Linked DNA regions of Homo sapiens. The protein of the gene in region 3 purifies or fractionates together with the protein of the main gene of each other region. This does not show direct contact. Each region holds a gene or a part of one and is shown on either strand. Other genes may lie near its edges.

Region 1 (3,718 bases), on a different chromosome or scaffold from region 3:
AAAAAAAAGGGGGAGAACTGAGGAGGATACTACTCATGATTCCTGCAGCACAATTCCTTTTATGTCAAAACACACACACACACACACACACACACACACACACATACACACACTAGTCCATCATGGCGTATATGTCTTAGTTTGAGTTTCTCCAGAAGCAGACCCTAGGCAAGGTTTCAAATGCAAATAGTTTGAGAGCTGATTCCAGAGACCCTCCTAGGGGAGTAAGGAAGTGAGGCAGGGAACAGGAGGTAGTCATTAAAGGTGTCTTCTAAGCCCAGTTACCACTGCGGGCACCTGGAGCTCAATCCCACTGAGGAGCTCTGGGAGCCAGGGTAGAACAGGCTTGAGAGGTGAGGGAACCGGGGTATTTGTCCACCCTGTTCTCGCTCCTGTCTTTTGTTGAAAACTACTCCTGGGGATGTGATAATTCTCTAGCACTTTCGGCTTGCCAAGCCCATGGGCAGAGCAGGCACCAATAGCCACAGAGAAATCTCTCAGACAAAGAGATGAAGGTGCCGGCAGCTGGAAGTCCAGCCAGAATGTGCAGAAATGGTAAAGGGCAGAGTGATAGAGGCAGGGCACTGACAGCCTCTGCTTCAACATACATGTGTGTAAATGCAGAGGCAGAGGCTGAGGCCAAATGCTGGCAGAGGATATCTGGGTGGGGAAAGAGGTGGCCATGGAGGGCTTATAGAATGAGTAATCCAAGAGTGTCTTAAATGTATCTGTAATGTTTTAATCTTCCTTCCTTCCTTCCCTCCCTCCCTCCTTTCTTTTCTTTTCTTTCTTCTTTCCCTTCTTTCCTTCCCCCCTTCTCCTCCTCCTCTTCCTCCTCCTCCACTTTCTTCTTCTCTTCCTTCCTTTCTTCTTTCTCTCTCTCTCTTTCTTTCTTTTTTCTTTCTTTCTTTCTTTCTTCTTTCCCTTCCTCCTCCTCCTCCTTCTTCTTCTTTCTTGCTTCTCTCTCTCTCTCTCTTTTTTTTTTCTTTTTCTTTTTGAGACAGGGTCTCGCTCTGTCTCCCAGGCTGGAGTGCAGTGATGCTATCATGGCTCATGCAGCCCCAACCTCCTGCGCTCAAGCGATCCTCCCACCTCAGCCTCCTGAGTAGCTGGGATCACAGGCACATGCCACCACACCCAGCTAATAAAAAAAAATTCTGGTAGAAATGGGGTCTTGCCATGTTGCCCAGGCTGGTCTTAAATTCCTCGGCTCAAACGATCCTCCTGTCTTGACCTCTCAAAGTGCTGGTATTACAGATGTGAGCCACCATACCTGGCCTCTAATGGTTTAATTTTTAACAAGAAGGATGCACTAATGTTTTACTAGGTGGTAAAAGGTCATTTTAAAAATAAAATACATACCCTTCAAAAAATAAAAGAAACTGAGACCTGGAGCTTTGTCAATTATAAAAAAAATGTAAAAGGATCAGCGCCTGTGTTACTGAGGCTTTGAGGATTCCATTTGTGGAGGACAGGTTTGGGGGCAGCTGATCTCTCAGTACCACGGCAGGTTAAAGTGAAAAGTGGCCCTGGTGGTGAACTGGCCACCATGTCCTGTCTGGAGGGGGAAACTTCCACTCAGCGGCAGCCAAGGAAAGACTGCTCCTCTCCCAGCAGAAGCGAGCAAATGTGCATCACCCTTCTCAGTTTAAACATATATTTATAGCTATTGGTTTTCTTTTTGTTTGTTTGTTTTTGTTTTGAGACAGGATCTCACTCTGTTGCCCAGGCTGGAGTGCAGTGGGGCAATCTTGGCTCACTGCAACCTCTGCCTCTTGAGTTCAAGCAATTCTCCTGCCTTAGCCTCCCAAGTAGCTGGGATTACAGGCACCCACTACCACGCCCAGCTAATTTTTGTATTTTTGGTTGAGACAGGGTTTCACCATGTTGGCCAGGCTTGTCTCAAACTCCTGACATCAGGTGATCCGCCTGCTGACCTCAGGTGATCCGCCTGCCTCAGCTTCCCAAAGTGCTGGGATTGCAGGCATGAGCCATTGCACCTGGCCTATTTATAGCTATTGTTTAGACGGGAAATCTGGGGGCATCCAGCAGACTAAATGGGGACCTTACTGTCATATCTCATATCCTATTGGTCAGATGGATAATAAACAAATCAACAGGTAATACATTAGGTGCATTAGTCCAGGTCCTTTTTTATTTTTTCTTTTCTTTTTCATACTTAACTTCAGCATACCCTGAGATAGTTCAAGTCCTTTGAGAAGCAGACTCCCATAGCATTAAATGTGCAAGAAATTTATTGGAGGAAATGGCTATGAGAGAAAATGGGAAGAAACCAGGAGAGGACAGGAGAGCCATCAGATAGTGGGGTACCTCTGTCCACTAATGAAAAAGAAAAGGAAGGAAGAAAGGAAGGAAGAAGAAAGGAATAAAAGGAGGACGTGTCTTGGACTGCCATGCCGTATTTTTTTTTTGTAGTTGTTGTTCTGTTTTATTTTGTTTTTTTTGAGACAGAGTCTTGCTCTGTTGCCCAGGCTGGAGTGCAGTGGCGCAGTCTTGGCTCACTGCAACCTCCGCCTCCCGGGTTCAAGCAATTCTCCTTCCTCAGCCTCCTGAGTAGCTAGGATTACAAGCATGCGCCACCACGCCCAGCTAATTTTTGTATTTTTAGTAGAGACGGGGTTTCACCATGTTGGCCAGGCTGGTCTTGAACTCCTGACCTTGTGATTCGCCCGCCTTGGCCTCCCAAAGTGCTGGGATTACAGGCGTGAGCCACTGCGCCCAGCTGCCGTGCCATTCTAAGGAAAGTTTGTCAAGGCTGTTAAGGAGCCCTTGGCCAAAGTCTCTTGACAGAGGTCCCCCAGACATGGGTGGGCTTCGGTCTCCCTGCCACACTCAGTCATTGGCTGGGAGCAGCCCATGAGAGCAGTGATGGACTTCAGAGCACAGCAGCTGAGCCGCTGATCAATTTCTCCAGTCGTACTCCTGCAGTTGGAGATCTGAGAGGTGCATCCTCATGGCCACCACGTTTAAGAGGTGGTTAGGGGCATGAAGACTAGCTGGGAACAGGCTAGACAGTGATGGGAGTTGGGGGGCAGAGGATCCTGTCTTTGCCAGGGTGATGAGGGAAGGTTGCTCTGAGAAGGTACAATCATTAGAGAGACTGAAGGAAGTGATGGAGCCTTTCTGGGTGAAGAATATTCCAGAAACAGAACATGCAATGCCCCAGAGGTATAAGCACAGTTGGTGAGTTGAAGAAGAGCAAGGAGGGCTCCAGTGGAATGATCAAGGGAGAGTTAGAAGGAGACAGATCTGAGAGGCTGAGGAGGGGATCAGATTGTGGAGGTCTTACCCACCTTGGAGAGGACTTGGGCTTTTACTCCAAGTGAGACGGAAACCCTGGGTGGGGGTTGAGCAGAGAAGGAATGCGATCTGACTTACCTTTTTTTTTTTTTTTTTTTTTGAGACGGACTCTCACTCTGTTGCCCAGGCTGGACTGCAGTGGTGCGACCTCGGCTCCCTGCAACCTCTGACTCTGGGGTTCAAGCGATTCTCCTGCCTCAGCCTCCTAAGTAGCTGGGATTACAGGCATGCGCCACCATGCCCGCCTAATTTTTGTATTTTTAGTAGAGATGGGGTTTCACCATGTTGGTCAGGCTGGTCTCCAACTCCTGACCTCAGGTGATCTGCCCGCTTCAGCCTCCCAAAGTGCTGGGATTACAGGTGTGAGCCACCATGCCCAGGATGACTTACATTTTTA
Region 2 (3,600 bases), on a different chromosome or scaffold from region 3:
CCCTGAGAGCTTGCTATGAAGACCTTAGAGGCTGAGGAAGGCCTGGCTTGGGCCTTCCCAGCTTCCCTGATGTTGACCTGGATTTTCCCAAGGGCTGGGACAGAGGCAGAGACTCTGGTCTAAAGTTGGCACCCCGGGAAGAAAGTGCCAACCCAGCGGCCTGAGGAGAGCCAGACCTTCACATCAGGCCTTCCCTCAAGCCAGGACCAGGCCTGGACACTCAAACCAGGGGCCCATAAGACCCTCTGGAGCCAGCAGGTTGCAACACTATCTCCAAAAGGCATAGCTGCCCATCAACTCCAGGCTTAGGAAGGGCCTAGCCGGGCATGATGGCTCAGGCCTGTAATCCTAGCACTTTGAGAGGCCAAGGTGGGCAGATCACCTGAGGTCAGGAGTTCGAGACCAGCCTGACCAACATGGAGAAACCCCGTCTCTACTAAAAATATAAAATTAGCCGGGTGTGGTGGTGCATGCCTGTAATTCCAGCTACTCAGGAGGCTGAGGCAGGAGAATCGCTTGAACCCGGGAGGCAGAGGTTGCGGTGAGCTGAGATCGTGCCATTGCACTCCAGCCTGGGCAACAAGAGCGAAACTCTCTCTCAAAAAAAAAAAAAAAAAAAAAAGGAAGGGCCTACTAAAGAGAACCACCTGGTTTGAGTGGAGTGGCTCTTTGGTCCTGGGGAATAGAGAGAAAGCCCAAGAAGGGGCTCGACCCCCTCCCTCAGGTTGCCAGCTATTTCCCAGAGTTTACATTCACTCATTCAATAAGTCATGCATTCCACAAGATATTTTCTTGGTGCCAAACCCTGCTTTGGTGCAGGGGCAATGACAGAGATGAATCAGATTCCCAGCCTGAAGGTACTTCTGGTCTAGAAGGAGATGAACAAGACAAATAACCCAGCCACAAGGCAGTCCAAGAACATAGGGCAGGGGGCAAGGATCTCACCTGGGGTATCAGGGAAGCTGCTGGAGGGTGATGATTTGGACTTGTGATAGAAAGGCCAGGATGGAGGATGGAAGCAAAATCACTGACAGACAGTCCTGTTTGCACCCCAGCTGTGCCAGGGGCTGGGGCAATGTGGGTTATTTATGGTTGTGCCTAGAAATAAGCGGCCATATGTGTCACTGCCTATGTGGTGCAGACCTGGGCTGTTGTGGGTAGGGGCAGCTGGGGCTTGAAGCTGGGTCTGGCCAAGCTCCCGGGTTTGCCACCATGTCTCCTACACCCTGATGACCCTTTAACCTTTTCATAGCCTCTTGTAAGGTGAAAATAAGGGGCAGAGGCAGCTCCAACAGGCAGCAAGTGGCCTGGGGCTTGCAGGGGAGGGCAGTGCCCAGCAGCCCATGGCTTCTGTATCTGCGGGGCCTTTTAGCATTATCGCCTCCTTCTTGCCTCCTCCCCCCTCCCCGCTCCCATCCCAGCTGTGGGGGAAGGGGTAGGGGACAGAAGGAAATACCTTTAACCATAAGCCAGACAGGCATCAGCTGCTGTGTTTCTCCCCAGCCCACTCTGATCCATAAATAGCCTATGCACCAAGCTGGCACCAGCCCACCCACCCCTTCTGGTAGCAGTCCAGAGACCCGGACCGCCCGGGCCCAGGCCCCAGCTTCCCAAGGAACCTATTTCCGGCGCTTTTCCTGGGGTAAGGGCCTCCGATGCCAGCTCGCTCCCCCAAGGGACCCAGCGCAGTGGCATCCTGGCACTGCCTGGGTGATGCCCGCGAACTCCGTCCCCTGAAGGCATCCCCGAACGCGCACCCGCTTCTCTCCAGGCAACTGCCCAACCCTGCCCGGGCTCTGGCCCAGGGAGATGTCAGTCCCGGCGCCCACTTCCAACACGCACTCCCTAACTGGACACCCGCACACACAACCCCCCCGCCCTCTATTCAAGGGCCAGACCTCCTACCTGGGGGCAGGAGCTCCGGGGACCATCGGCGGCGACTCGGGGCGAAGCGGGACGTCTGGGGCCCGGCCTCAAGCCCGGCCGACTTCCCGGGGGAGGAGGGGGCTGGCGCTGCCGCCGCCACCGCGTCGCTCTGGGATCTCGCCGGGGCTGCGGGAAGGAGGAAGGTCAGAGCTGAGGCGGAGAGGGGGGAAGGATGAGGAGGAGGCGTGCACCGAGCAGAGCAGATTAGAGAGGCATTTTTAGCGAGCCAATGGTAGCGCGGGCAGGGCGGCGCGGTGGCTGCGCAGGTGGACGCGCCGCGGCTGCCGGGGAGGCAGCAACCAGTTTGGCAGGCGCCGGGGGTGGCGGGTGGCGGGTGGCGGGTGGGGTCCGGCTCCCCGCTGCTTCAGCCGACCCCTGCCCCAGCAGTCTTGCCTGGCTCCCTCTTCTGGGGGCTGCCCGCGGCCCCGCGCGTGCCGGGAGCCCTCCGGTGCGCCCTCCTCCCCAGCCCTCCCAGCTGGCGCGCTCGGAGCCCGGGATGTTGCTCCCTGCCTCTCTCCCCATCTCCCCATCGCCTTGGCCTTTCCTCCTCTCCCGAGCCTCGGCGTCCCTTGGTGCGTGCGGGTGCCTGTGTGGTGGGTGTGTTGAAGACGTGCGTGTGAGCTGACTTGGGAGCGACACCCCCTGCACCACCGCCCCACTGATGCCCACCCCTGCCCGCAGCTTCTGCCCTGTGACCCCATGGGGCGGGATCGCTAACCCTCATGTCCTAGTTCCAGCAGGACCGGCTGTCGCCAAAGCAAACTCCAGGCCATGTCGTTGGAGCTCTCTAGGGGGCTTGGGGCCTAATAGGGGACCCTCAACGGCCTTCACTCTTCCGAACTTGAGCCCTGAATGCTGCCTGGAGCCTGGACGCTGCAGGGAGGAGCGGGGCACATACCTATTGAAGGCCTGTTCTGTATCAGGCACTGATGAGGGGCTGGGCTGCAGCAGAGGACAGAACAGACCAAAACTCTGCCATCTCATAGTTCACATGTGTGAGGGAAGATAGATACTCAATATCAGCAGCTAAGAGTGTTTTGTTTGGTTTTTGTTGTTGTTGTTTTGTTTTGTTTTGAGACGGAGTTTCGCTCTTGTTGCCCAGGCTGGAGTGCAATGGCACGATCTCGGCTCACCACAACCTCCGCCTCCCGGGTTCAAGCGATTCTCCTGCCTCAGCCTCCCGAGTAGCTGGGACTACAGGCGCGAGTCACCACACCCAACTAATTTTGTATTTTTAGTAGAGATGGGGTTTCTCCATGTTGGTCAGGCTGGTCTCGAACTCCCGCCCTCAGGTGATCTGCCCGCCTTGGCCTCCCAAAGTGCTGAGATTACAGGCGTGAACCACTGCGCCGGGCCAAGAGTGTATTTTAAAGTGGTATGCACAGAGTAGAAAAATAAAGCGGGAGCCAAGAGCGGTGGCTCACGCCTGTAATCCCAGCACTTTGGGAGGCCGAGGCGGGCGGAACACGAGGTCAGGAGATCGAGACCATCCTGGCTAAAACGGTGGAACCCGGTCTCTACTAAAACAAAAAATTAGCCGGGCGTGGTCGCGGGCCCCTGTAGTCCCAGCTACTCTGGAGGCTGAGGCAGGAGAATGGCGTGAACCCGGTAGGCGGAGCTTGCAGTGAGCCGAGATGGCGCCACTGCACTCCAGCCTGGGCGACAGAGCGAAAC
Region 3 (3,718 bases):
TCTTCTTTTTTTTTGAGACAGAGTCTTGCTCTCTCACCCAGGCTGGGGTGCAGTGGCCCGATCTTGGCTCACCGCATCCTCCACCTCCCAGGTTCAAGAGATTCTCCTGCCTCAGCCTCCCGAGTAGCTGGGATTACAGGCGCGTACCACCACGCCCAGATAATTTTTGTATTTTTAGTAGAGACGGAGTTTCACCATGTTGGCCAGGCTGGTCTCGAACTCCCGACCTCAGGTGATCCACCCACCTCGGCCTCCCAAAGTGCTGGGATTACAGCTGTGAGCCGCTGCCCCCGGCCTATTTCTTCATTTTTAGAGACAGGGTCTCATTGTGTCACACAGGCTGGAATGCAGTGGCTCCATCATGGCTCACTGCAGCCTTGACTCCCTGGGCCCAAGCAGTCCTCCCATCTCAGCCTTCTGAGTAGCTGAGACTTCAGGTGTGCACCATGCCTGGCTAATCTTTTTAATTTTTTGTAGAGACAGGGTCTCATTAAGTTGCCCAGGCTGGTTTCAAACTCCTGAGTTCAAGTGATCTTCCCACCTTGGCCTCCCAAAGTGCTAGGATTACAGGCATGACACTGGACCTGGCTTGCACTTCACAGTTTCTAAAACATTTTCCAATTCATCATATCACTCACTCCCCAAAGCAAAAGCCCTCAAAGTTTGTATGATTTCTCCCCAATTTACAGATGAGGAAATCGAGGTTCTGAGGGTGTCTTCCTCAGGCCCATCTCTGGAAGGTGGAGGGGTGGAGCTATTAGTAGAACCTGATCGAGCCAGGCGCGGCAGCTCACACCTGGGGCGCGATGGCTCACACCTGTAATCCCAGCACTTTGGGAGGCCGAGGCTGGTGGATCACGAGCTGAGGAGATCGAGACCACCCTGGCTAACACGGTGAAACCCTGTCTCTACTAAAAATACAAAAAATTAGCCGGGAGTGGTGGTGCGCACCTGTAGTCCCAGCTACCTGGCAGGCTGAGGCAGAAGAATCGCTTGAACCCGGGAGGCGGAGGTTGCAGTGAGCCGAGATTGCGCCACTGTACTCCAGCCTGGGCAACAAGAGCAAGACTCCATCTCAAAAAAAAAAAAAAAAAAAAGAACCCGATCTCTGGGCTCCCAGCTCCCCCATGCCACTAAACACCTCATCACCACCACTGGCCAAAATGCCAGAATTGCCTCTCTCCAAAGCCCTGTGGCCTGCACAGCCCCTTTGGCCTGTTCCTCACGGCAGCCTCAAAAACAGGAGCTGCTCAACCCACTCCAAAAATGGGGACACCAAGGCCCCGGGGAAAAATAGACAACAGATAGTTGGGATGGGATCTGCCTTCCTCCTGCCACCTCCCCCAGCCCGCGGCCCCTCACCCTTCTTTCTCAGGTGGCCACAGCAAGTTGGGTCCCAGGACTATGGCGATGTTGCTGGGTGTCATCTTGTTCACCTCCTGCTCCTCGGCCAGCCGTGCCAGGAACTTCATCAGGTACCTAAGGGCGGAGGCAGGCTTAGGCCAGGGGCAGAACGCACCCAGCCCTGAGAATTCTCCAGCCCAGGGTTTCCAAAGAGTGTGAAAGACACCGCCCAGAATGGTCTTAACATTGTCACAGTTAAATCAGCTTATCCACTGAGTGCCAACCCTGCAGTGGGCACTGAGCCAAGCTGAGTCCTCAGCAGCCACCCTACAGGGTAGAGATTGTTACAGTCTGCATTTTCCAGATGATGACGCTGAGTGGCCTGCCCAGAGGTGGCATGTGAAGCCAGGCGGTATGGCTTCAAAAGTTCAAGGTCTCATTTATTTCAATGCTTCGCATAAAAATGTGTGACTAATCCGGCTGGGCGCAGTGCCTCACGCCTGTAATCCCAGCACTTTGGGAGGCTGAGGCGGGTGGATCACCTGAGGTCAGGAGTTCAAGACCAGCCTGACCAACATGGTAAAACCCCACCTTTACTAAAAATACAAAAATTAGCCGAGTGTGATGGCAGGCGCCTGTAGTCCTAGCTACTCGGGAGGCTGAGGCAGGAGAACTGCTTGAACCCAGGAGGCGGAGGTTGCAGTGAGCCAAGACTGCACCACTGCACTCCAGCTTGGGCGACAGAGTGAGACCCTGTCTCAGAAAAAAAAAAAAAATTATATATATAAATGACTAATCCATCAAAGCTGCATTTTCAGTAATATTTCTTAGGATACAGTGGCAAGGCCAGGCTCAAGCCCAGGGTCCCAGGGTCCGTGACCTCAGCTGGGCTCTGGCTCTGCGGCAGGCTGGGGAGGCGGGCTCGGGCTCACCTGAGGTTGCTGAGGTTCTCGGGGGGTAGGCGGCTGCACACCTCTTGGAGGGCCTGCAGCCGGGCCCCTGGCTCCTTCAGGCTGGGGGGGAGTGGAGAGACCTGTCAGCCAGCGCAGGGCTACACCTTTGCATCCTCCTCCTCCCCATCCCCTCCCTCCTCCAACATCCTCACCTGGCTGCCCTCATCCAGTCATCATAGAGGTCGAAGGTCATCAGAGGCTCTGGCAGCTCCCGCAGATAGGACTTGAGGGCACCTGAAGGAGGGGTGTGGGGAGGGTCAGAGGCAGCCCCCACCCGCTCTCCCACTCTCCCTGTAGAAGGAACCTCCGGCCCTTGTTCACACTAACGTGTCTAGGTCTGACAGTTTCTTTGGGCTGTAGGCCCTTTTGAGAAAATGAAGGCTAGCCATCTTGTCCCCAGAAAAATGCCAAACATTTTCGGGGGGCTCATGATGGACCCCACATTAAGAACCCGAGTGTCCTCAGTCTCAACAGAATATCAAGTCTTAAAGCCAGGCTATCTTGGGATCGTTTCAAGCCACTGCACCCCCTCCCCCCCAACCTCCTGCCCAGGGCTCCCCGGATCAGGCACCTGCCACAGCGTGCGGGTCGGAGCAGAACTCCTCCAGGCTGTGGGGGTCCGAGGCCATTGTCTGCTTGAGACGCTTCAGCACCGAGGCCCCAGCAGCCAGACGGAAGAGACCCTGGGTTCGAGAGGAGGCAGGCAAGGGTCACAGAGGGGTGGGCAGGGCAGGACACCCTGGCGCACTTGTAGCCTGGGGTGTGCCACTGGCCTTTGCTAGGCCTGTGTCCCCGCTGGTCTGGCTGGCAGTGTGGGCACCACGGTGTCCACGGGCTTCAACCTTCAAGGTCTAGAATTCTGAGCAAAGGGCAGGGCTGGGAAGTCTGGGAGGAGGCGGGAAAAATCATGGGGAAATGGAAGCCCAGTCAGAAGTGGAAGGGAGGGGCCGGGTGCAGTGGCTCACGCCTGTAATCCCAGCACTTTGGGAGGCCTGTGCAGGTGGATCACTTGAAGCCAGGGGTTTGAGACCAGCCTGGCCAACATGGTGAAATCCCATTTCTACTAAAATAAAAAAAATTAGCTGGGCATGGTGGTGGGCATCTGTAATCCCAGCTACTTGGGAGGCTGAGACACAATCGCTTGAACCAGGGAGGTGAAGGTTGCAGTGAGCCAGGATCGCACCACTGCACTACAGCCTGGGTGACAGAGCGAGATCCTGTCTCAAAAAAAAAAAAAGGGTCGGGCGCAGTGGCTCATGCCTGCAACCCCAGCACTTTGGGAGGCTGAGGCAGGTGGATCACCTGAGGTTAGGAGTTCAGGACTAGCCTGGCCAACATAATCTCATCTCTACTAAAAAATACAAAAATTAGCTGGGCGTGGTGGTGCATGCCTGTAGTCCCAGCTACTTGTGAAGTTGAGG

Evidence for each region.
Region 1: the proteins of SH3BP1 (region 3) and HCK purify together in Homo sapiens (pull-down; one study listed by IntAct). This does not show direct contact.
Region 2: the proteins of SH3BP1 (region 3) and PACSIN1 purify together in Homo sapiens (co-immunoprecipitation; one large-scale study listed by IntAct). This does not show direct contact.

The regions. Positions count from the first base shown.
Region 1 is NC_000020.11:32,058,537-32,062,254, forward strand, and holds part of HCK (tyrosine-protein kinase HCK), read left to right. Parts: intron 1-3,718. UniProt on the Homo sapiens protein: Non-receptor tyrosine-protein kinase found in hematopoietic cells that transmits signals from cell surface receptors and plays an important role in the regulation of innate immune responses, including neutrophil, monocyte, macrophage and mast cell functions, phagocytosis, cell survival and proliferation, cell adhesion and migration.
Region 2 is NC_000006.12:34,464,576-34,468,175, reverse strand, and holds the start of PACSIN1 (protein kinase C and casein kinase substrate in neurons protein 1), read right to left. Parts: upstream 2,101-3,600; 5' UTR 1,906-2,100; intron 1-1,905. UniProt on the Homo sapiens protein: Plays a role in the reorganization of the microtubule cytoskeleton via its interaction with MAPT; this decreases microtubule stability and inhibits MAPT-induced microtubule polymerization.
Region 3 is NC_000022.11:37,646,080-37,649,797, reverse strand, and holds part of SH3BP1 (SH3 domain-binding protein 1), read right to left. Parts: intron 2,981-3,718; coding exon 2,869-2,980; intron 2,532-2,868; coding exon 2,450-2,531; intron 2,358-2,449; coding exon 2,277-2,357; intron 1,480-2,276; coding exon 1,363-1,479; intron 1-1,362. UniProt on the Homo sapiens protein: GTPase activating protein (GAP) which specifically converts GTP-bound Rho-type GTPases including RAC1 and CDC42 in their inactive GDP-bound form.